Regions from separate parts of the Homo sapiens genome. Here all the other regions are linked to region 3. The links come from fine-mapping of genetic effects on gene expression. A gene starts in region 3. Each other region holds a variant in brackets. All regions are shown on one strand. Distances are between the middles of the regions. Region 1 overlaps TRIM33 (tripartite motif containing 33). Region 2 has its middle 34 kb from the start of BCAS2. Region 3 holds the start of TRIM33 (tripartite motif containing 33). Region 4 overlaps SIKE1 (suppressor of IKBKE 1).

What was found.
Region 1: its variant is fine-mapped to the expression of TRIM33 in whole blood (INTERVAL, PIP above 0.99).
Region 2: its variant is fine-mapped to the expression of TRIM33 in whole blood (TOPMed, PIP above 0.99).
Region 4: its variant is fine-mapped to the expression of TRIM33 in whole blood (INTERVAL, PIP above 0.99).

The regions. Positions count from the first base shown.
Region 1 is chr1:114,393,875-114,400,194 of GRCh38, forward strand. It overlaps TRIM33 (tripartite motif containing 33), which reads right to left. Exons shown (of 20, transcript NM_015906.4): 18 at 5,583-5,735; 19 at 4,066-4,116; 20 at 1-3,986. The coding sequence ends at 3,774. Among named protein-coding and RNA genes, the nearest start is that of TRIM33, 110 kb to the right of the region's middle. The variant T/C (reference allele first, on the strand shown) is at 3,243.
Region 2 is chr1:114,544,536-114,550,855 of GRCh38, forward strand. No RefSeq gene overlaps it. Among named protein-coding and RNA genes, the nearest start is that of BCAS2, 34 kb to the right of the region's middle. The variant T/C (reference allele first, on the strand shown) is at 3,931.
Region 3 is chr1:114,508,734-114,515,053 of GRCh38, forward strand. TRIM33 (tripartite motif containing 33) reads right to left here and starts at 2,470. Exons shown (of 20, transcript NM_015906.4): 1 at 1,818-2,470. The coding sequence starts at 2,343. It overlaps LOC124904348 (a long non-coding RNA gene), which reads left to right and starts at 2,605. Exons shown (of 2, transcript XR_007066452.1): 1 at 2,605-3,192. RefSeq lists silencers at 2,007-2,306, 2,337-2,446 and enhancers at 2,637-2,806, 3,667-4,429.
Region 4 is chr1:114,763,938-114,770,257 of GRCh38, forward strand. It overlaps SIKE1 (suppressor of IKBKE 1), which reads right to left. Exons shown (of 5, transcript NM_025073.3): 5 at 5,542-6,320. Among named protein-coding and RNA genes, the nearest start is that of CSDE1, 9.1 kb to the left of the region's middle. The variant C/A (reference allele first, on the strand shown) is at 3,030.

The DNA of each region.
Region 1 (6,320 bases), 110 kb before region 3:
AAGATAGACTGGGTGATATGCATACAAACTTTCCTATAAAATCACCATCCAGGAGAGGATTCTGACATGCTATTAGGCAACAGACTCAAAGCAGTGTTATTGCTTTATCAAGGAGGAGATTAACTGTGAGGGAAAAAAAATTAAATATCCAGGTCCGGTACATGATCAAACTGTATTACACCTTGAAAATCTTGAGTCACCTTCAGCAGATCATTAACATAGATGGTACAGAAATTAAGAATTCATGGTATGAATTAAGAATCTGTTTTAACTAAGGGAGTTGGGTGCGTGGATTTTTTATAAAACTACTCACTGATCCGATGCTGAGTATGCAAATAAGCAGTGCTGATTTTGACAAGAAATGAGATTTTTATATTTCACATGTTGTACATGAATGGGGGTGGATATGGGACGTAAAAGCCAAGGGAGACGGGGCCACAGCATCTACTCCCATTTTGGATAGTAAGAGACCATTTAATAACATACAGTAGGCCACAATCCAAGGGCATAGTTGGAAGACCTGAATCTATTATCTTATTAACACTAATCACTAATAATTACATGGCAGGATACCTGCTGAGGTAATTGATAAATCTACAATTTGCACACTTATAAACCTTTTACTTCTATTTAAAAGCATTATTTATTTCAATTAACTAAAAATTCCAAAACTTATCACAAAAAATGAGACAACTGACTTAGCATTACCTAAAATTCCCTTATGTTAAGATACAGAAGTCAGAAAGTACCAACTTGTTGATCCAAAAATAATAATTTCAATAGTGGATCCAATGCCTTATCATTTCTCTGTAGTAATGGTTTGATGTTTCCATATAGAGCACGACCTACAATCTAACCATACTTTAGAACTTTCACATGCTTTGCCTCATAAAGCAATTCCTTCACTCAGTGAATTGGCTGAGCCAAGTGCTGAAAACACAAATTTAGGTCAGCGGAACAGACTGAGCAACACTTTGTTCTTAGTTTTCTGATGGAAGAAGTAAATTGAAGTACAGCAAAAACTTTAAAAGCTTTTAAGAAAACATTATTATGTGGACTTTTCTCCAAATCTTCTAAAATACTGCCATTTAAAAAACAAATACAAATGTGAGAGAGTATAAAAACAAACTGCCTTCAGGGACTGACAGATACAATTTTGTCTTTTTAAAACATAAACTAATAGGAAAACATATATCTAAATATCAATTTAAGTTTTTATACTTTTTAACCATAGGTATATTAGAGCTGAAAAAATCAGCTTAGAAACACAACGATCAGTGTGCAAGAAAAAAGCTTTAATAAAAAATCTAAAGTGAATACCTTAATTTAATGGTGGTATGTTGATAGCTATTAATAGTAATTCCTCAGCAGTATACATTATCTTAACAGAAGTGGAGGCTATTAAATGTTGACAAAAAAGTGGCTTTTAAATTGCTTTAACCAATCTTAAAACCAAAAAAACCTAAAAACTCTATCTAACATGTAATTTTAAGGAAACACAATTATTTTTTAAGGCCCCAAATACTGAAAAATATTTACTTAAAATGTTTCTCCCCTCAGTTGGCAGAATCTATTTATGACTCATTATCTACAATTTTTTTAAAAGGATCCATTTGAAGAGCAATACAAAATATTAGAACTCAAAGGCCTGACAAAATGAAGTTATACTGCTGCTATTCCTCACTTTCCAAAAATGTGCCCTTAGATATATGTCTACTTACAAACTGAAATCATGGATTTTGTGAAAAAAGAGGGAAATTGGCATAGGCATAAGTATTTTTAAATAATTTTCTCCCTCTTATTAAAAAACATTTTTAGGAATTTAAAATTTGAGTAAAATGTTTCAACAGTTTGGTATATTTTCAACGGCTTAAATTATTTTTTAAAAATTGAAAGAAAAGTGAAAAGGAAGCCAGGAATAAAGTAAATCAATAGTAATAATAAAATCAATACTCTTTAAATACACAACCAGAAAGCCTGAATCATATTCCTGTTTACCCCCACCCCTTGTTAAGAAAAGAAAAACAACCCAAAGGAATTTGTATAATAATTTCTTTAGAGCACTTTATTTGATTCAATATGCATTAAAAAATATTGACCTCTTAGACAATTACGTGAAATAATTTTCTGAGTAGTCTACTCTCTGAACTGCTTAAATGAATTTTTAAAAAGGCAAATAAATGATTTGCCACAAATCTGCTGACTTCTGAAAAATATCTAACAGCAAATTCTTCTATTTTGGTCTCTGAATATTCTAATGTGTCCATACAAAAGTAGGACTAAAATCTTTAATCAAACAAAAGAGAAGCCTGTAACAGTGTAGAACACACATTTTGAATCTGAGCATCACAAATGAAGAAAAGAAAAATGAACCAGAGCCAAGTTGGTTTATCGGCCTCGGGTGCTGTAATTGGGGTGGTAAAGGTGGGTTTACTCCAGTAACCATTCAAGTGGGGATTGGCTCATTTTCAGGATTTACTTACAGGTCTCTTCTAAGTCCTTTAAGCCCCCAGTCCATGCAAATGTCCCACTTGGTGGACAGATGAGTAATCTAACCCCACCGGGTTTATTTCAATATTTCGATATTTCAATAATAAGCTGCTTCTGAAGATTTTTTGAGAAGTCTGTTCTCTATTAAAATAAGATAGAACCTCAAAATATGAATGTGAACATTAGAAATAGACAGCATATATTACAAATCCATTCTTGATAGGAACATTAGTAAGAATACACATTAGCTTAAAAAACAGGCTCAGCAAATGTTGCTGATCTGCCAAAAGTTTTAGTTCACTATTTACAAATAAGACAAAGTGAAATACAGAAAATTTTACACATTTGGTAGTTGACAGATACTGTTTGCCAATAGTGGTCTATCAGAAAACTGACATGAAGGAAGACTGGAAAAGAGCCAGTTGTCACCTTCTCAAATTTAAATGTACAGAAAACTAGATTAATTTTGAAACAAACATTCTGCCTTTCATGGGAATAACTGTATGATCACATGATTTGATTGGGAAGTACAATTGTGAGGAAGTGTTTTCTGGAAACAACTACTATAACTCTAAATAATCCACTAATGAAAAGTTACCATTTTTGTTTCAGTAGACCATTGAAGTTGATTAAATGATAACTAGTGGTAGTGTTTCCTAAACCCTAAGTATGAGTAGAAAATAAAACCATTGCTGAGTTCTTTATATCAATTTAAAAACTAAGACCCAACAGCATAAAAATGAGAAAAAACA[T/C]AATGGCATGATTCAATGCAAATCTGCACTGACATTAAAGTAGAATCTGAGCTACTTGGGTTTTTAACTAGAAAACAACCTGATATGTATGTGTGTGAAGGGGGAGGGTTAAAAGTTGTTTTAATAACTGTGCGACCTAGTCCAAAAAGAAAATTTATCAAGTGACACGAGTCTCAAGTATTTACTCGTATACCAAGTATCCTGCACCAATCAATAGCACACAATCATCAATATTTGCCATTTCTAACAATCAGAGAATCATCTCCATTAGAACAGAAATCCTCAAATCATTTCACTTTTGCTTTTTGCTTTGAAACTTGCAAACAGACTTCTCTCCCCCTTTCTTGACAAGAATGTGTTTCTGTCCATTATTTCAATCTAATACTGTGTAAAAGCTATCAGCTTCTTCAAGGAGGTGCCCACTGTAGGCAGGATATTCCAGCAACACTTAAAAGTTTTCTGGGTTTTTTGTGTTTTTTTTTTTTTTTTCGTTTTTTTTTTTTTAAACAATTGATTTAAATCCATGTCATTTTACTTTATATGTACTGGTCTCTCATCTGACTTTAGGCGTTTTCTGCGGGGCTGTATAAAGTCTTCATCAGAGTCCTCAGTTACCTCACCATCATCCTCTTCCTGCTCAAACTCTGGCAAAGGTGCGAAGGTCCTGTCTGAGTAGATCTCTGTGAGTTTATCTTCAAAGTACAATGCAACTGCTTTCCCTGCCTGAGCTACTTCTGAATCAGCCTGCAAGCAAAAGATAGGAATATTCACCTATTGGTAATGCATATTCCTTCACCAAGTTTGCATGGTCTGAAAAGCTTACCTTCAAATTAATCTCTTGTGTGTCTGCATAAACTTGAACAACTTTCATCATCTAAAAAGGATACCAGAGTCAAAAAAAAAAAAGGGAAATTATAATCCTTTCTAAAGTTATGAGACTGCATAGGATTGGCGACGAAAAGTCAGCCATACTAGGGAGAACAAATTGCTATAACCAGATAAAGTGCTTTTCTAAAATTCTACAGAACATGGAACCATTTTCTTTACAAAGCCCTGTTACTAAAGCTACTGTGAAACCTCAGTAATTGTCTTATTTTGAATTATCAAGGTCAATCTGAATAGGAATTGGTCTGAACACATCAATCTATCCAAGAGAAAAATATTTGTGAAGCATATTATACAAGAAACGTTGCTTTAAAAAACTGACAAACTTTCAACAAACCACTTAATAAAAATTCTATCTGTATAGCAATATGTTAATCATAAACTATTTATTACTGAGGCAGGAAACATGGGTCTTCTTATCAACTATAGTTCATGAAAGCATATTTATTTGAAAATAATTTAACTGCACTGAAAAATAAGACAGAATTTGGGACTAAATATAACTTCAAACTAGTGAGATTTTACTAATATACTCTGTGCCATACTGCTATAAAGGTGACTTAGAATTTTCACCTTATGAGGATTTTGTTTTGTTTTTGATTTTAAAATGCCATCTGGATGCTTCCAGAGGCAGCTATAGGAATACGTTACAGGATCCAATGTGATTTATTTTAGTAATAATCATATGGCACCCAAATTACACCAGCAATAAAGAGACTTTAGTATTAATCTTTTAAAAGATTTTGTGGATTCTCATTAAATTCCATTTTCTTCTCCTACAATGAAACTCTTCCATAACAATAATAGAATCGATTTTATCCCTAATAAAAACAATTTCCCTGAAACAGGTATATAATACATTTCTTCTCAAGGCATGGCTAACTCAAACTTACCCTCAAAAAAAAAAAAAAAAACAAAACAAAACAAAACAAAAAACAAAAAACTCCCCAAACCAAAAAACATAACCAAAATTAATCAAAGTCACACTGCTGAAATAAGAAAACTTAGTATTATATACTCTGGGCTACTATTCAAGATGGGTCACCAGAGATTAGTTTGTTATTTTAAGGTTCTACATTCATGTTGTCAATAATAAAATGCAAGGACATGGGTACAGATAACTTTCCTAATAGTACCCAAAACGTAAGCTGTTTATAATCATATTCCACAAAATATACGTAACTACTGACAGTACTTTCCATACTTATGCCAATCCTCAACTCATTTAGAAAAGGATATTTGATAATATTCTTAATTTATTATATTTAAGTATATACTCCAAATTATACACAATAAATTTTCTTCACTGGAGCTGTTAATACAATCAGATGTTACTTTTGACAGGACTTTAGCAGAAAAAAAAATTTTAATAAAATTAAAGTCAGCAGAAAAATAAAACAAGGAAACAAACAAAAACTAACAAATCAAGACTCTATAGGTTGGAAGTTAACATACTTCATTAAACCTTTCACAGTTCTTGAAGATCAAACGGACATCGGCCACAAAGTCATCCGGGATTTGGTAGTGTTGGGAATGTTTTTTCTGAAGCTTCTTTTTCACGGTGGATAAATCCATTGGTTTCTTTATAATTTTATAGTAGTTTGGTATCTAAAATAAGCACATAATGGCAAATAAGAATTCTCCAAAAATGCCAAACTGTTTAATTTGAAAATGCATAGCATATTAATTTTAGGGAAAAAAATTATTATAGAGCCAGCTGCTTGCAAATTTTGAGTATAGACGTATGTACTTTACATCTTCATGAAAACCAAATCTTATGTGGCATATGTGCCAATCTTCATGGTTAGTCCAAGTCCCCAAAGTCCTACTTTTAATAATAAGATTTGGAAAGAAAGCAATTAGCAAGGGTAACCAACCAGTAGCCTTGAGGCAACATTTGACTTACCAGAATTTTATGACTCCTTAGGAGTTTTTCTTTTTTTTTTAAAGAAAAAAATTTACAAAATATATTAATGTTACAATTAGAATATGATGTCTTTTGGAAAACATAACAGGGAATATCATTTACATCACGAAGTCTTGACTTAGTAACAGAGGAAGTAAGACTAAGAACATAAGAAAAATTTACTAACTTTATTAACCATTTAGTGTTCACGCTAGGGAATTCTGACCCCAACTCTGGCGAAAAATTTCTACCCTTGGGATAAAAGTAAAGTTAGAGAAGCTATTTTA
Region 2 (6,320 bases), 36 kb after region 3:
AGGTTTACCGAGGAATTGAGTGGAAAGTACAGAGAGTTTCCATATGCCCCTTACCCCTAAATATGAACAGCATCCCCCTCTATCGCCATGCCACACCAGAGTGGTATATTTGTGAAAATCAGTGAACCTACACTGACTCCTTATTATCACCTAAAGTCAAAAGTTTACATTAGAGTTCACTTTGGTGTACATTTCATGGGTTTTTACAAATGTATAAGGACATGTGTCCACCATGATAGTATTGTACAGAATGGTTTCACTGCTCTAAAAATCCTCTGTTCTGTACCTATTCATCTCTTCCTCCTCTCAAACCCTGGAAATTGCTAATTTTTTACTGTCTTCATAGTTCTTCCTTTTCCAGAATGTCATATAGTTGGAATCATATGGTACAATATGTATAGAGCCTTTACAGGTTGTTTTTTTCACTTAGTAATAGATATTTAAGTTTCCTCCATGTCTTTTTAGAACATGGTAACTCATTTCTCTTTAGCATGGAATAATGTTCCATTTTTTGGATATATCAGAGTTAATTTATCCATTCACCTGTTGAAGTACAGCTTGGTTGCTTTAAAGTTCTGTCAATCATAATTAAAGCTGCTATAAACATCTGTATGCAGGTTTCTGTAAGGATGTAAGTTTTCAACTTATTTAGGTAAATACCAAGGAGTACAATTGCTGGATGCTATTATAAGAGTAGGTTTAGTTTTGTAAGAAACTGTCTTCCACAGTGGCTGTACCATTTTGCATTCCTTCCATCAATGAATGAGAATTTCTTTTGCTCCATATCCTCATCAGCATTTGAGCTTCTAGATCCTAAATAGAAAAAGATGAGAGTTTATAAAAGTTTTGAGTGAAAAAATACCCTATAAAACCTATTATTTGATTAAAATTCTCCAGGCAAAGATCACATTAAGGAGGTGGTTTCATACCTATTATTAAAACTCCTTAGTGCTTTAACGTGCCTCAGGGCAAATTCAGATCAAAGGTATAATGCCAGTAAAACCTGTCATTTGAATAAAGCCTTCAGAGCAGAGATCAGATTAAAGGTGAGACCTTTCTATCTCTTATTCTGATAAAGGTACCCTCCATTAAACTGAAAAGCCTACTAAAATCCCTCCCCAATATTCATTTGAAAAAATAAAAAACCTACAGAAAAGTTGTAATGGTACAATAAATATCCATATACCCTTGACCTAAATCCTTGAATTGTTCACAGTTTGACACGTTTTCTTTCTCTCTCTGTCAACCCATGTGCATGCATAAACACACACTCACACATTTTTGCTCAAGCATTTAGAAGTTAGCTGTAGACAATATGGTGCTTCACCTGAAAAACTTTAGCACACTTCCAATAATAAGGATGTTACCTTATATAAACACTATGTAGTAAAGAATTTGGCTTTGCCCAAGTAGAAGTTCTGGCCTTTGCCCTAGGCTTCATGGATGTAATCTCTGGGTACTTGGAATGTTATGCCTGACGGGACAGTCTTTGTCAGGGCACCTTGTGTCAGACTGGATATTCTAACAATGTGATTTAGGGCTGGGGCTGGCCAAACCAGAAAGACTCACATGTTATTTAGGGTGAAGGCGCTTTGGTTTTTAGGGTTTTTTTTCTTTTTTTCCTTATATTTTTATTTTTTCTCTAGGCCATGTTCTCATCGGAAGGGTGGGGGCTCTGGTTGATGTAGTATCAGTTGACCTGGAGTTTGAGATCAACCACATGGACAATTAGTCAATCATGCCTATGTAATGAAGTCCCAGTAAAACTCTCAACACTTAGGCCTGGGTGAGCTTCCCTGGTTAGGAATACTTGGGCATATTGTACACATCAACATTGGAAGACAGTTTCAGCAAGAAAAAAAAAAGACATGCATAGATAGGAAGATAGATAAATAATAGGTAGGTGATAGGTAATATATATAAATATATATATATATAGAGAAAGAGACATTGCAAACGTAGCACAATACTAGCAATTGGATGAATCTCGGTGAAAAGTACGTGGGTGTTCATTCTCTTATTCATTCGCGGAGTAATGTGTTCTGACTCTATGAAGAGAGGACGAGGGAAGCTCCACATTTGGTACGTCCCTGACTTGGCCCTATGCGCTTCTTCCCTTAGCTAAATTTAATCTGTATGTTTTTCCTGTATAAACTATTACCATGAATATAGTAGTTTTCAGTGAGTTCTGTGAGTCCTTGTAGAGGATTATCAACCTGAGGATGGTTTGGGGAACTCCCAGACTTGCAGTTGGTGTCAGAAGTAAGAGTGGTCTTTTATAGCTACTATTCCCCCTGACTTCCTAGTTGGCTAGGAATTGATGCAAACACAATATAATTTCACATTCTGATAATTTAACATTGATACAATACTATATATAATACATATTATTATTTATTTATTTTGAGAGACAAGGTCTTGCTATTTTGCCTAGGCTGGTCTCAAACTCCTGGCCTCCCACCTAGGCCTCCCAAAGTGCTGGGATTACAGGAATGAGACACTGTTCCTGGCCATCTAATACATATTCTTTATTCAACTTTTACAGAGGGAGCACAAAAAATTTTCTAGAAAACCCTGTGCATGTAGATGGGGCCTGTCAACTCTGCCCTTCACTGTAGAGTAATCTAGCTGGTTCATTTCAATGATGTCTTTAGATCTTTAGATCTTTTCTCTCGGCCAGACCAGATTTTGCCAGCAAAGACCCTTATAATCTCCTTCCAGAAGGAGGCTGCTAGCAGAGTGGGGAAAGAGGGCTGAGGGATTCTTCCTAAGTATATAAGCTCTCACTTAATCTTTCTTCTTTCAAGATTGAATCCTTGCCCTTGACAGTACTAGGTGTTCCCAGTCAAGCAATTCTCTATTTTCCCCCTTTTTGGAAAACATGCTTTCTGCCTTCTGTCTGCCCAGCCAGCTTGTATTGAAGATGGGGATTTGAGCCTTTCACTGCTTCTTTAAAGTTAAGGTAGAACAGGGTCTAACTCCTTCTTAAAGTTAAATTCGAAGAGCCATAAAGACATCTGGGGGACATTGAGACTGTACATTTAAATAATATTATTATATCTGTGTTTATTTTATTTATTTATTTATTTATTTATTTATTTATTTATTTATTTATTTTGAGACAGAGTCTCACTCTGTCACTCAGGCTGGAATGCAGTGGCACGATCTCGGCTCACTGCAGCCTCCGCCTTTGCTACTTGGGAGTTGAGGCAGGAGAATTGCTTGAATTCTCCTGCCTCAACCTCCAGAGTAGCTGGGACTACAGAAGCACGCTAATTTTTGTATTTTTAGTAGAGACAGGGCTTTGCCATGTTGGCCAGGTTGGTCTCGAACTCCTGACCTCAAATGATCAGCCTATGTTGGCCTCCCAAAGTGCTAGGATTACAGGCGTGAGCCACCGCACCTGGCCCAATTTCACTTTTTACCTCACAGTCACCCCCACTCCCAGAGGTCACTGGTGCTACCAAATCCTGGGTCCAGAAGGTTGTGTGGATAAACAAAACTGCTTTTTAACTTTCATATTTTGCTTTCTCACTGTTGGTTTAAGGTTTAGCTTCTTTGCATCTGTTGAATCAGTTACCCCTCTTCCATTTGCATTCCATCTTCTCCAATTTCTTGCTGTTGTCTCATCTCTCATTTTCTTTGTCTTTGTGGATTTATGCCTTGAAACAAAACAAAGAACAAAAAACTTTTACTAAATGTTGTAGTGTGATTTTGGGAGGTAGTAGAAATAAATGTAAACATTCACTTCACTTTCTTTAGCTTGAAGTTTTCCACCATTTTTTTATTTTTTATTTTTGGAGACAGAGTCTCGCTTTGTCGGCCAGGCTGGCGCAATCTCAGCTCACTGCAACTTGTGCGATGGCGATTGTGCAAATTGTGCGATGCAAATTGTGCGATGGCGCAATCTCAGCTCACTGCAACTTCCAC[T/C]TCCTAGGTTCAAGTGATTCTCCTGCCTCAGCCTCCTGAGTAGCTGGGACTACAGGTGAGCACCAGCAGGCCTGGCTAATTTTTGTATTTTTAGTAGAGATGGGGTTTCACCATGTTAGTCAGGCTGTTCTTGAACTCCTGAGCTCAAGTGATTGTGCTGCCTTGGCCTCCCAAAGTGCTGGGATTATAGGCATGAGCCACTGCATCCAGCCTCTACTATATATATATATATATATATATATATTTTTTTTTTTTTTTTAATTTCAGTTAGTTTTCACAAACGACAGAGCTCCAAGGTCATAATGTATTTCAGCCTTGTCTCTGAGAGTAGCAAAAGTAGTTCACACATATTGAAACAAAGCTATTCACAGCAGTTTAAATTATTTTAAAAAAACTTTAATTTTGAACAATTTTAAACCTACAGAAAAGATGAAAGGATAGTATAATAAACACCCACATACTTTTCACTTGGATTTATCCAGTTGCTAGTATTGTGCTATATTTGTGTTATATATATATATATGCTTATCATCTATTATCTATCTTCCTATTTATGCATGTCTTTTTTTCTTGCTGAAACCATTGAAAGTAAGTCCTAAACATCATAACGCTTCATCCTTAAAACACTCCAGCACGTATCTTTGAAGACCACAATACCTTTATCTTACCCATGAAATAAAAAATTGATGCAATATTATGTAAATCTGTAATACCCAAGTGTGTCCCCAAAATGTCCTATTGCTGTTCTAACTTAATATTTTCCCCTTAGCTATGACTTGCTCACCTCCCTTCCTCCTTGGTTTTCTCGGTACTGCCAGGAAAGGTGGGGCCAGTGAGAGTCAGCGTACTTTGGCACCACTCTCATCCCCTCTCAATTCCACAGCCTCAGCGGTTACCCAGTTTCTGCTTGAGAAGTTGCTCAATCTAGTGTTAGTTGTGGCTTGAATGAGTCCTCAGTCTTTCTTCAAATCACTAGTTTTTTAACTCAGGTATTTTTATCCCAGATATCAGTGTCTACTGGTTTAAATTTCGTTCTTTTTTTTTTTTTGAGATGGAGTCTTGCTCTGTTGCCCAGGCTTGCTCTGTTGCCCAGGAGTGCAATGGCGTGATCTTGGCTCACTGCAACCTCCACCTCCTGGACTCAAGCAATTCTCCTGCCTCAGTCTCCCAAGTAACTGGGATTACAGGCAGGTGCCACCACTCCCAGCTAATAATTTCCTTCTCTTATAAGCTTAGTTAACTTGTTTAGAAAACCTTGGGAACCTGAAGAAAACCCCAGGAACCTGGGCTACTCTAGCAAAAACTGATAGAAGCACCCATAGATTATGTTTTTGGCCTCATCAAATGTTTATATGTTTTCAATTTACTGTGCCAAACCACTTGAAGTCAAGATGTGAGTGGACAGTGAATTGATACCTCTCTACTATAAAAAGTCACAACATTTTGGGGTTCCTGCTCTAAGGATGATCTGAGAACCATCCTAGAAATCTTGCAGCATTTATCTCTGCTTGCATTTCATAAAAATTCCCCCAAATTACTTTAGGAGCTAGGACTTTGAGCCAATTTCACTTCTGATACCAGTCTGTATAGATGTAAAAAAGTAATGATGGCCTGGGCATGGTGGCTCACCTGTAATCCTAGCACTTTGAAAGGCCAAGGCTGGCCAATCACTTTGAGCTCAGGAGTTGGAGAACAGCCTGGGCAACATGGCAAAACCCGGTCTCTACAAAAACTGAAAAAATGAGCCGGATGTGGTGGCTTGCACCTGTAGTCTCAGCTACTTGGGAGGCTGAGGCTGGAGGATCGCTTGAGCTGGGAAGTAGAAGTTGCAATGAGCCAAGATTGTCCCACTGCACTCCAGCCTGGGCGACAGAGCGAGACCATTTCTTAAAAAAAAAAAAAAAAAAGCAATGATGGTATGATTAACTAAAAGACACCAACAGAGCCAAGCCAACAATACAAGTTTCTTTAATGTAGGTAAACACACAAGAATTTTAACAGCTTGAAAACATAGAGGACACAGCCGCATACTCAGATAGAGAGGTCAGCTTCCCTGCTCTGCAGGTTCCCCCCTGAGGTCAGATGACTTTTGCTGAATTTACCTGATGAGGGTTGAGATACCATCAGATCTTTCAAGAAGCTCTCTTGCCATTCTCTTAGAGTTTTTTTTAAAGCCTTGGTTCCCCTCTAGCACTGGAAATGGTAGCTATGTGTCTGCCTGCTCACTAAGTGCAAGTAATTGGTGATAACTCCAGCCCATTGCTGAATGTGAACTTGAGAAAAGAAGGCTGATTTTTCAGGCGTACCATCCCTCTTAAAACCCTAAGTTTTAAGTTGGTCAGAGGATAACCTTTGCAATGTAGACACTAGAATTTGTTCAAAAAGGGTGA
Region 3 (6,320 bases):
CCATCCCTCCATTCCCATAGCCACTATTAGTTACTACTATTAATATACTAGCTACCATTTCATTAGTAACTACCACGTACTAATCACTTTACACATTTTATCTTACTTCATTCTCTCAATAACCCTATGAGGTTATATACTTTTTTCCCATTTCACAAATGAGAAAACTGAAGCTAAGAAAAGGTCATCTGCCCAAGTCGTAAGTAGGAGATGGCAAAGTAGATTTCCAAACCCTACCGTTCCCCCAAACCAAAATGCTTCATTCTGTAATACCTGATATATCATTCCTTTACTACCCATTCCAAATGTTGATTTCTTTCCTAGATAACCGCCAGGATTCTCCTAACTGGTCTCCTTGTCTCCAGCCTTGCCTTCCCTCATCCCTCAAGTGCCCTAAGTGATCTTTCTGGATCAGAAATCTGATCCTTTTATCCTCTTGATATGAAAGCCCTCCAGGAACATCCTTCAGTCCACAATGTCGAGGATACACTCTACAGGATGAATTCCAAGCCCTTTAGTGCAGCTCCACAATCGCTTACCTACAGTCCCGAAATTCAAAAGCTTTGAAATTTTAATTTTTTTCATTGGTTTGCAACAGAACCCACTGTGAATGCTGGGAGGTTATTTATCGTCTATCCCATTAGCGTGACATTCACGTGTTTCAATGTAGAAACATTAACGTGTTTGATAGAGTTAACTCAGACCCTGATAAAAGTCTCACATAACAGACCTTGCCAGAAAAAAGAAAAATCCCAAAATATTCTGAAGTCCTTACACCTGGATCCCAAGAGTTTAAGAGACTGTGAAACCTTTATCTTTTCAGCCCATCAATCCAATCTAATTTCCACCAATCACCCTACACAGTCTTTAGTTCCAGGGATGTAGAAGGGTGTCCTGTGCCCTGAATACCCTCCAACCCAGTGAGGTACTCATTCTTCAAGAAACCTGTTCATGGATTTCCTTTCCTGTGAAATTTCCCTGACCTTTCCTCTATTGTGCCACAACCATTGTACTGAGGACTCACCTCCACTGCTGCAAGTTATATGTTTCTCCTGTTAGACTGTGAATGAAGTCTTCATTGAGTACTTTATTCAATCCTAGCACAGTGCCCCAACACTAGGGGCTCATTAACGGCCAATTAGCTAAAACAAATTCATGCCCAGCTTTCCCTAACTCTCAATTTCCTTCAAAGTTCATTTCTCCTTCATCCCCAAACCTTAGGATTTTCCCTAACCATGCAGTCCACTTTCCGAGTTTCTCTTTCCCCATGTCATCTTACAATTTTCTTCCAGGCGCCTTCTCTGGACCCCTTGCTCTCCAACATATTCTCTCCACCTCCATTTAATCCATAGTCCTCCTCTCTCCTATCTGTGAACACGCCAAGTCCCCTCCCTCCAAAGCAATCCATCTTCACTGCCCTTACCTCTTACCTACTCCCTCAACACCTCGCTGGCCCGGGCCCTTTCAGCCAAAACGCTTCCTCACAACGTGTTTCCCAAATCCCCCTTCTCTCACTGTACGGGTCTGCCAGCTCCAGAACCAGCGCTCGGCCGGGTTCCGCACATCACAAACCCTCCCTCGGAGCCAGTGTCCCCTCCCCCAGCCTCTCGCAGCCGGCACCCCTCCCTTCATGCTCCCCTTATCTCTTGCGGTCCAGCTTCTCTGGAAAGTGTCCCAGGGGCGAGTCTTTCACCTTAGAGACCCCTCGGGATGGCGCCCGTCCGAGCAGCCCCAGGCCCCAGCACCTCCGTCCCCAGCTCCTCTAGGGTTGCGCAAATCCCTTGCGGCCCAGATGCCAGGCAGGGCCTCCGGCTCACCTTGCTGGATGTCGCCGTTGCTGCCCCCCGGGATGGGCACGCTGAGCTGGCGCTCCGGCTCGGGCAGGCAGCGCAGGCAGAAGGAGTGAAGACAGGGCAGCAGCTTGGGCTCCGCCTCACGCCGGCTCTGCAAGCTCTGCTGACACACGGCGCAGGTGTCCAGGAGCGAGGCTGGCGGTCCAGGAGGCGGCCCTGCCGAGGGACCCGGAGCGGGAGCCGAGGCTGGAGCTGGAGCCGGCGTCGATACTGCGCCCCCGGCAACTCCAGTGCCCACTGAGGCCGCAGGAGATGAAGCAGCCTGGGCCGAGCCCGAGGAGGCCGCGGCCACCCCCCCGTCGTCGGGCCCGGCCGCGCCGCCCTCAGCGCCGGCCCTGCCGCCTTCCTCCTCCTCCTCCTCCACCAGCACCGCGGTGAGAGGCGGCTCCGCCTCCTGCGCGGCGGGCCCGGCGGCCCCGGCAGTTACCGGCGCGCTGCCGCTGCCCCCGCCGCCGCTCTCAGCCTCGCCGCCGCCTTTGTTTTCCGCCATGTTTTCCTCTTTGAACCCGCCGGACCGCCCCGCGCCGCCCGCCGCCCGCGTCGCCGCCGCCGCCGCCCCCAGCCCCAGCCGCAGCCGCAGCAAGAGCGGCAGCCGAGAGCTAGCGAGAGAGCGAACCAACGAGAGCGCGCGCGCACGCGGCGCCCCCGCCCTCGCGTCGCGCGTTTGAAGGAGGGCGGTTGCGGCACGCGCACGTACGCACGGACGTCCTCCCGAGGGAGGCGGGAACTCGGTTCGCGGGCGCGGAGCGGTCCCGGACCCTCGAAGCCAGTTCCTTGCGTCAGTGCCGCGGCTCTTTAACCCGAAGGGAGATTTTTTTTTTAAAGCCAGAGGCCGTTGACGCTGGGTAGCCTTTGGCTGGGGTTGGTTATGAACTCCGACACAGCGGTGGTGCATACGGAAGGGTGGTAGCCGGGACGGTTCCGGTCCCTGCGAGCGTGTCCCGGGCGTCTCCGCGGAAGTTTCACCTGCCGCGCCGCTCGATCGCCGGGACCTCCTGGGTCTCTGCTGTGCGTAGACCAGCCGCGTTCCTTTGGGTGGCCGTGGAGCACTAAAGCGGGGCTTATTGTTTGTTTGGTTTTGGTTTTTTTTTTTGTTTTTTTTTTGCTTTTTGTTTTTGAACTGAGGATCTATCAGAAATAGGCTGAAAAGACCGAGTGAGGAAGAAACTCTTTAACAGCTATTTTTGGCATCTTAAGGTGATTCTCAGGAGTTGCTACGTATCAGAATCAACGGAGGAGTTTTTCAAAGCAGAGATGCCAGGGCCAGTCCCCAGACCTGAATCAGGAAGTGAGGGAGAGAGCCGACGGAGGGGGAAAAGTCCCTTCAGCTGATTCTTATGTATGTCAGTTTGGAGAGCCACGGATATAACCAATACTGCGTCCTTCTGAGGTCCCACTTTAAGTGTCCTGGGTTGAGCTGGGTGACAAATGCCCTTACAACAATGGTAGTAGAAGCTTTCAGGCCAAGCGCAGTGGCTCACGCCTGTAATCCCAGCACTTTGGGAGGCCGAGGCGGGCAGATCACTTGAGGTCAGGTCAGGAGTTCGTGGGCAGCCTGGCCAATATGGTGAAACCCCGTCTCTACTAAAAATATAAAAATTAGCCGGGTGTAATGGCGTGCGCCTGTAATCCGAGCTACTCAGGAGGCTGAGGCAGGAGAATGGCTTGAACCCGGCAGGAGGCGGAGGCTGCAGTGAGCCGAGATAGCGCCACTACACTCCAGCCTGGGCGACAGAGCGAAACTCCGTCTCAAAAAAAAAAGAAAAGCTTTCAGAAAGTTGCCTTTTTATTTGAAAAAAAAAAAAAGGTATTTGGAGGATTTTATGTAGTGCAACAACTGTTTTAGTGTTAAGATCATGAAATGCTTTGGTCTCCTGTTAGTGTTCCCAAGAAAGGTGCTGTAAGTCCTTAAACCACGTGAAAACTTTTTTTTTTTTTGAGACCTCCTCGTTCTGTCGCCCTGGCTGGAGTGCAGTGGCGTCATCACATTTCATTGCAGCCTCGACTTCCCAGGCTCAAGCCGTGCTCCTCGCAATTACCTGGGACCGTAGATGCACGCCACCATGACTTAGCTGATCTTTTTTTTCCCTTTGCCTCGAAGAGGCTGGGGTCTCACCATGTTGCCCAGGCTGAAACTCCTGGGCCCGAGCGATTGGCCCGCCTCAGCCGCTGGAAATGCTAGCATTACAGGCATGAGCCACTGCGCCCAGCCTCCTGAAAACTTTTTAAAATTTATTCAAAAATGTTTCCTGACCTCTTTATTGTCATAGTGTTTTAGAGATACACTGGGATTACAAAACAGAGGAGCTCCCTGCATTCAAGGGGTTTACAATCTAATAGAGAAAAAGATTGAGAATAGATACATGCCAGGGAGTGGTAAGTGCTGTGAAGAAAAGAATAAGTGGGGTAAAAGGGGTTAGAGGTGATTGAAGAAGGCCCCTGTTGATCAGATGAAGGAACCTGTCTTGGAGAAGAGCAGGAGAGGAACACATAACAAGTGCAAAGGGCCTGAGGGAAACGGATTCTTGGCTTGTTAGAGGAGGAGTCAGTGTGGCTGGAGTGGCTTGAACAAGGGAGAGAATAGTAGGACATGAGATAAGAGAGTTATTAAGGGAGCCAGGTCATGTACAGAAATGGTCTTCAATTTTTTTTTTAACTTTTGTGCCCTTTGAAAGAATTTTGGAAGGCTGTTTTCTTTCCTCAAACATTGTAAGTTGACTAAATTTTTTCAGAAGTTTAAATAGTTGCAGAGTTTAATTTGTGACATTCTGTAATACTGACATTTAAAAATTATTTTTAATCTAATAGGGAAGTAAACACTAAAGTGGCTTAATACTATCCATTTTTTAAAGTATATTAAAATGTTATATTTTTTAAACATGGAAAAGTATTGGGAATGTTTTAATGATATGGCTGGGAGTCTTCCCCCTTCCCCTAATTATTTCGAGTAGGCATGAATGCATATAACATTGCTAGAATGAGATAAGGTCCTGTATCAACTCCATTTTTCATTGCCACAGTCTTTACTGCATTAAAAACTATATATGTATACATGTATGTATCTACACACTCACATATATGATGGAGTAATTCCCTTAAAACTACCCTTACTTTTTTATGTACCCCTTGGAAAATTTTCCTTCACTGAAGTACCCCAGGAGTACTCATACCCTAGCCTTAGGACCACTGAGTCAGATAGGAAGGCTTGGATGGGTTTTGAGCAAAGACTCAAAGCAGAATTGTGAAAAGAGTCACTGTGGCTGCTTCCTAGAGGAATCACCTGTAAATGGTCAGTGGAATAAGGAAGACCAGTTAAGGGGCTAATAGGGTAATAACTCGGTTGGTTGGATCAGGTTAGAATCTGTAAAGGTGGTGAAAAATATGGAGTATAAATCATAAACACTTCTTCTCAAATTCACTTCAAAAAAATAAGCTAATGAACTGAATTTCTCAACCAAAAGTTTTGCTTCCATGAGTTTTCTTAACCTTTTGATGCCTGCTACATTTGCCTTTATTAAAATCTAGAATAAAAGTGTTGTTTTTGAAAACTATATAATTTGTATAGGATGGAAACAGCCCCCATGAAGTTCACTGTGTGCTCTGAGAAGGCAGTGCCTGGAGTATAACTCATGAAATATTTAGGATCATTGAAACAGACCCAGTTACATCCTTGATTTTCTGTGGGAGCCCAGAAATCTTGCAGGAGAAACTATGAAATAAGTCCACAGATGAGGCTGAGATACGATAATGCACAAACCTGTCTAATAGACTGCATAGCATGGGGTTCATTATGCCCTGGGACAAAATGCTTGGTTTGAATCTGGTTCCATCACCTACTAGCTATGTGATTTAGGGAAACTTACTTAGGTTGCCTCAGTTCCCTCAGTCATGAAAGGGTGTTTGCTACGGGTAGGACCTACCTCAAGGTTGCCTCACAAACAATATTTGTAAAACGTTAATAACAGCACCCAGCACATGGTGAACATGGATGTTAAAGTAGACCCAAAGTTCCCTGAAGGAAACAGAACTGGCAGGAGAAACACATGCCACTGAGAGAAAATTTCAAGAAGAGGAATCATGCTGTGGCCCAAACTGAGCAGCAGGTAGAGGTAGAGGCTGTGTCCAGCCATTTTCCTGACCTAGGCTACTATCCCTTGTTCCTCTGGTTTGAGCATTATCAGAAAAAACCAGTTCTGAAATAAAGGAAAGAGCTCTTAGGAGGTTCATAGCAGTTCTGCTATGAAGAAAACTCCTCTAAGTTGCTGGTAAACAATAGTGGAAGGAGTTTTCCAGTTGTCTAGGAAAGAGAAAGGGCATTGGAGGTGAGTGACCCAGGTAGGTAAGCAATGGTGAGAACACGATGTGTCCATCATCTGGGCACAGGAGGTTGGCAAAAGCAAGGCAGTAGCCCAAGGGTAGCGTGAAGATTTGCAAAGGCTGGTCTGCACCTTCTGGACAGAGCAGCCA
Region 4 (6,320 bases), 260 kb after region 3:
CCCTGCTCTGTGCAGCCTTGGGATATGTGCAGCCTTGGGACACGGTGTCCTAAGTCCCAGCTACTTCAACTCCAGCTGTGGCTAAAAGGGGCCAAGGTACAGCTCAGGCCATTATTTCAGAGGGTGCAAGCCCCAAGCCTTGGCAGCTGACACATGGTGTTGGGCCTGTGAGTGTGCAGAAGTCAAGGATTGAGGTTTGGGGACCTCCGCCTTGATTTCAGAGGATGTACGGAAATGCCTTGATGTCCAGGCATTAGTTGGCTGTAGAGGTGGAGCCCTCATGGGGAACCTCTGCTAGGGGAGTGAAGAAGGGAAATGTGGGGTTGGAGCCCCCACACAGAGTCCCCACTGGACACTGCCTAATGGAGCTGTGAGAAGAGGGCCATCATCCTCCAAACCCCAGAATGGTAGATCCACTGACAGCTTGCACCGTATGCCTGGATAAGCTGCAGACACCTAACGCCAGCTGTGAAAGCAGCTGGGAGGGGGGCTGTACCCTGCAAAGCCACAGGGGTGGAGCTGCCCAAGGTTGTGGGAGCCCACCTCTTGCATCAATGTGACCTAGATATGAGACATCAAGTCAGACGAAGGAAATCATTTTGGAACTTTAAGGTTTGATGATTGGTGTAATGGATTTTAGGCTTGCATGGGGACTATTGCCCCTTCGTTTTGGCCAATTTCTCCCATTTGGAAAGGGTATATTTACCCAGTGCCTGTACCGCCATTGTATCTAGGAAGTAACTAACTTGCTTTTGATTTTATAGGCTCATAAGGGAAGGGTCTTGCCTTGTCTCAGATGAGACTTTGGACTTGGACTTTTGGGTTAATGCTGGAATGAGCTAAGACTTTGGAGGACTGTTGGAAAGGCAAGATCATGTTTTGAAATATGAGGATATGAGATTCGGGAGGGGTCATAGGCGGAGTGATGTGGTTTGGCTGTGTCCTCACCCAAATCTCATTTGGAATTGTAGTTCCCATAATGTCCACATGTCGTGGGAGGAACCTGATGGGAGGTAATTGAATCATGGGGGCTGTTACCCCTGTGCCACTGTTCTCATGATAGTGAGTGAGTTCTCACAATATCTAATGGTTTTATTTGTATTTATTTATTTATTTATTTTTGAGACGGAGTTCTGCTCTTGTTGCCCAGGCTGGAGTGCAATGGCACGATCTCAGCTCACTGCAACTTCGGCCTCCTGGGTTCAAGCAATTCTCCTGCCTCAGCCTCCCAAATAGCTGGGATTACAGGTGTGTACCACCACGCCCAGCTAATTTTGAGTTTTTTTTTTTTTTTTTTTTTTTTTTTTTTTTTTTTTTTACTAGAGATGGGCTTTCACCATGTTGATCAGGCTGGTTTTGAACTCCTGCCCTCAAGTGATCCACCCACCTCGTCCTCCCAAAGTGCTGAGATTACAGGCATGAGCCACCACTCCCAGCCTATCTGATGGTTTTATAAGGGGCTTTTCCCCCTTTTGTCAGCACTCATTCTCCTTGCTACCATGTGAAGGACGTGTTTGTTTCCCCTTCTGCAATGATTGTAAGTTTCCTGAGGCCTCCCCAGCCTTTCAGAACTGAAAGTCAATTAAACTTCTTTTCTTTATAAATTACCCAGTCTCGGGTATGTCCTTATAGCAGCACGAGAACTGACTAATACAATTATGAAATAAAACTTTCACTACTTAGAATTTTTATATTTATTGAAAGGGCTATTTTAAACTTTTTTTTTTTTTGGAGACAGGGTCTCAGTCTGTTGTCCAGGGTGGATTGCAGTGGCATGATCTCAGCTCACTGCAGCCTCCATCTCCCAGGCTCAAGCAATCCTCCTGCCTCAGCCACCTGAGTAGCTGGGACTATAGGCATGCACCACCACGCCTGGCTAATTTTTGTATTTTTTTGTAGAAATGGGGTTTTGCGATGCCCAGGCTGGTCTTGAACTCTTGGGCTCAAGCAGTCCTCCTGCCTCAGCCTTCCAAAGTACTGGGATTACAGGAATGAGCCACCTGTGCCCTGCCTAGACATAGATTTAAATCATGTCTCCCTTTTGTGTGTATATGAAGTAAAAAAAAAAAAAAATGGCAAAATAAATTTGTTAAGGTATTCCTAAAACTTCTTCACAAAGTCTAACTCTTCTGAATCTCTTTCTTTTCAGTAATAAATTTGACCATATTTTAAAAATTCCATTCATCATGAGGCAACATAAAAAAGTTTAAAAAATCAACAGACTAGTATATTTGCATTATATAAAAAATGTATTGGTATCATGAATATATAATACATTAATAAGAAAAAGCCAAAAGGAAAGAAAAGGAAAATGGAGAAAATACTTGAAGGTCCATATTTTTTTTAAAACCTGTATAGGCAAATACTTGAAATTATACCCAGCCTCATTAGAAATCAGGGGGATGAACTTTTTTTTTTTAGATTTTTACACTTACAGAAGAGGTAGAAAAATAGTACAGAAAGTTTCCATAAACTCTGTACTTGCTTCTCCTATTTTAACCTTACATAACTATAGAACAATTTTCAAAACTAGGAAATCAACTTTGACATGATAATATGACTTGAAATACAAAATTAATTTGGGCTGCACCAGTTATTCCAACAATGTCCATTTTCTCCTCCAGGATCAAATCTAGGATCCCACACTGCATTTAGTTTTTATGTCTCCTTTGTCTCCCTTCTATGACAGTTCTTTAGTCTTTGTCTTTTACAACTTTAACACTGAAACAGGCTGGGTGTGACGGATCATGGCTGTAATCCCAGCACTTTGGGAGGCCGAGGCGGGCGGATCACTTGATGTCAGGAGTTTGAGACCAGCCTGGCCAACATGGTGAAACCCCGTCTCTAGTAAAAATACAAAAATTAGCTGGGCGTGGTGGCAGGCCCCTGCAATCTCAGCTACTCTGGAGGCTGAGGCTCTAGAATTGCTTGAACTCAGGAGGTAGAGGTTGCATTGAGCGGAGTGAACTCAGGAGGTAGAGGTTGCAGTGAGCCTGGGCAACAGAGTGAGACACTGACTCTCTCTCTCT[C/A]TCTATATATATACTTTAAAACAGTATCAGTCAGCTATTTTGCAGATTTCCCTCAATTTGGTTTTGTCTGATGTTTTCTCTTGATTAGATTGAGGTTATACATTATTTGGAACACTACAGAGGTTATGTGCCTATCATTGCTCAATATCAGGGGTATATAATGTTGAAGTGTATTATTACAATTATTATTATTGAGATGAGGTCACGCTTGTCGCTCAGGTTGGAGTACAGTGGCATGATCTCGACTCACTGCAGCATCCACCTCCTGGGTTCAAGCAATCTTCCCACCTCAGCTTCCCAAGTAGCTGGGATTATAGGCGCCCACCACCACGCCCGGCTAATTTTTCCATTTTTAGTAGAGACGGGGTTTCACCATGTTGACCAGGCTGGTCTTGAACTCCTGACCTCAGGTGATCCACCCACCTCGGCCTCCCGAAGTGCTGGGATTACAGGTGTGAGCCACCTTGTCCAGCCATTGAAGTGTATTATTAATGATGTTTACCTTAATCAGTTGATGTCTGCCAGGATTCTCCATTGTAAAATTACTACTTTTCCCTTTGTAATTAGTGAGTATTTGGGGGCAGGGCAATGCTTTGGTAATGTACTGAATTGAATAGTGTCCCCCCTAAATTCATTCCCACCCAGAACCTTAGAATATGACCTTATTTAGAAATAGGGCCTTTGTGGAGGTAATCAAGTTAAGATAAAGTCATACTGGATTAGAGTGGGCCTGAATCCAATGAGTAGCGTCCTTAGAAGAGAGAATTTTATACACTGACTAGAGACATGCAGGGAGAATGCCATATGAAGACAAGAGATTGAAGTGATACATCTAGAAATCAGGGAACAGGAATTGCCAGCAACCCCAGAAGCTAGGAGAGGGGCATGGAACACATTCTCCCTGAGACTTCTAGTCTCCAGGACTACGAAAGAATAAATTTGTTTTAAGCCACCCAGTTTGAGTTCATTTGTAATGGCAACTCTAGGAACTAACGCAAACGTATATAAATATCCTGTTTTTGCTTAAATTTTAGCCCACTATTCATTGGTGCATCTTGCTGAATCTTTCTGGTTCATAGATATCCAGGTTTTCCCACATAGAATTATTTTGAGCCCACCAAGAACACTGATAATGTAGCATTTCCTCAAAGAGTGCTTCATGGTTTCCAGGATTTTATTCTGAGCTGCTAAAAGCCACTGGAGTAGGTAGAATTCCAAGCTGGCCACCAAGATTCCCACTGGTGTCGTACGTGTCTTGTATCATCCCATCTTAAGCATAGGTGAAACGTGGATACGAGAAGCTGTATCACTTATATCTCTTTTATGGCAAAGGGATTACTGCAGATATAATTAAGATCTCTAATCAGTTGGGTTAATCAAGAGGGAGATATTCTGGTTGGACCTGACTTAGGTGTATTCTTAAAAGGGAGTCTATTTGCCGGGCATGGTGGCACATGCCTGTAATCCCAGCTACTCGGGAGGCTAAGGCAGGAGAATTGCTTGAACCCGGGAGGTGGAGGTTGCAGTGAACTGAGATCACGCCATTGCACTCCAGCCTGGGCAACAGGACAACGGGAGCGAAACTCCGTCTCAAAAAAAAAAAAAAAAAAGGAGTCTAGAGGTGGGAGACAAGAAGTCAGAGATATTTCCTGTTGCCCTTGAAGAGAGTCTTCTAGTTGTAGAGCTGTACTGAAATGGATTTTGTCAATAATTACGTGAACGTGGGAGAGAGACTGGAGCCTCATACGGGATGCTGGCTTCAGCTGACACCTTGATTTTAGCCTTGTGAGTGCAAGAGAGGAGAACCCATTTGAGCCCTGCATGGACTTCAGACCTACAGAACTGTGAGATAATACGTGGATGTTGCTCTAAACTGTTATTTGTGGTAATTTGTTATATAGCAGTAGAAAACTAATACAGCCAGCCATACTCCAAATTTGTGTGGTGGCACACTCTTGATAAAAAGGTGTCAATGGAAAGAACAGAAAATGGCCAAAACCCATGTTCTTTTTTCACATGGTCCTGAGTTTGACTGAAATATTCAGATTGCCTTTGTCCAGTCATCCACCATAAGTGCAAACCAATTTTGTATATGCTTACAATCAACCACATCGGAACCTGTACCTGTGTAAGACATATCCCAATATCAAAGATGTTAAAATAAGAAATAGAAATGAATGTTACAATCAGTAACATACAAACATTCATCAATTAGTTCCACACATATTTATACGAGCCTAGATGAAATTTTGAGTGAAGTTGTAGCTAATTGAAACTCTGAAGGTTCTGCCTCCTCTTCAGCATTACAGGAGTGACAAAACAAAAAGCATTATCTGCTTTTTCCTATATTAGCAGATAATACCCCTTAATTCACTCTGAAAGTTGCCATGAGATATTATCAGTGAAATAACTGCAGAATGTGAAATACGTCATCTTATAGTTAAATGTGTTTAATATAAATGAGACACAGGAAGGGAGAATTAAAAATTAGTAAGTAAAATATTAGCAAGGATTTTTTTAAAAAATGTATAATTTATTATATATGTATGTATTCCTTAACAATATGTTGTATAACCCAACAATGAAATATACATCAATGAAAATGACAGCTATAAAACAATAAAACTTGTGAATTCTAGAGACATGTTGAGTGAAAAAAACCAAATCCTTAGACTACATAGAGTATGATACAATTTTTTTGAAGTTCAAAAAGAAAGAAAACTATAAAATAAGTCACTTTAGGGATACATATGTATTTTAGGTCTTTCTACATTCGAACAAATCTATTAAAAAGAGAGCGGGGGGGTCGGCAAAGATAGGAGAAGAGCTCAAATAGATAAAATACAAGCACTCATAATGTTATTCTTAAGTTAGGTGATGAGTTATTATGCTTGATAATTTATTTGCATTCCCCATTTACCCTTTTATAAGCATCAAATATTACATTTAAATATAAGTCCCAAATTATGTATAAAGTGTTGATAAAATTTATATCTGCATGGCTGTTCCTAAAACTATGCTTATTTTATCAAGCAGAGTTCTTGGTTTTAGGCAATTCAGGTTAGTTTTAATAACAGCAAAAAAATGATTTTATTAAAAGTAATTCTCAGGATCTCTAGGACAGCCAGCAAACAAGAATTAGAGGTTACAGGCCAGGCACAGTGGCTCACGCCTATAATCCCAGCACTTTGGGAGGCCAAGGCGGGCGGATCACCTGAAGTCATAAGTTCGAGACCAGCCTGGCCAACATGGAGAAACCCCATCTACTAAAAACACAAAAATTAGCTGTGC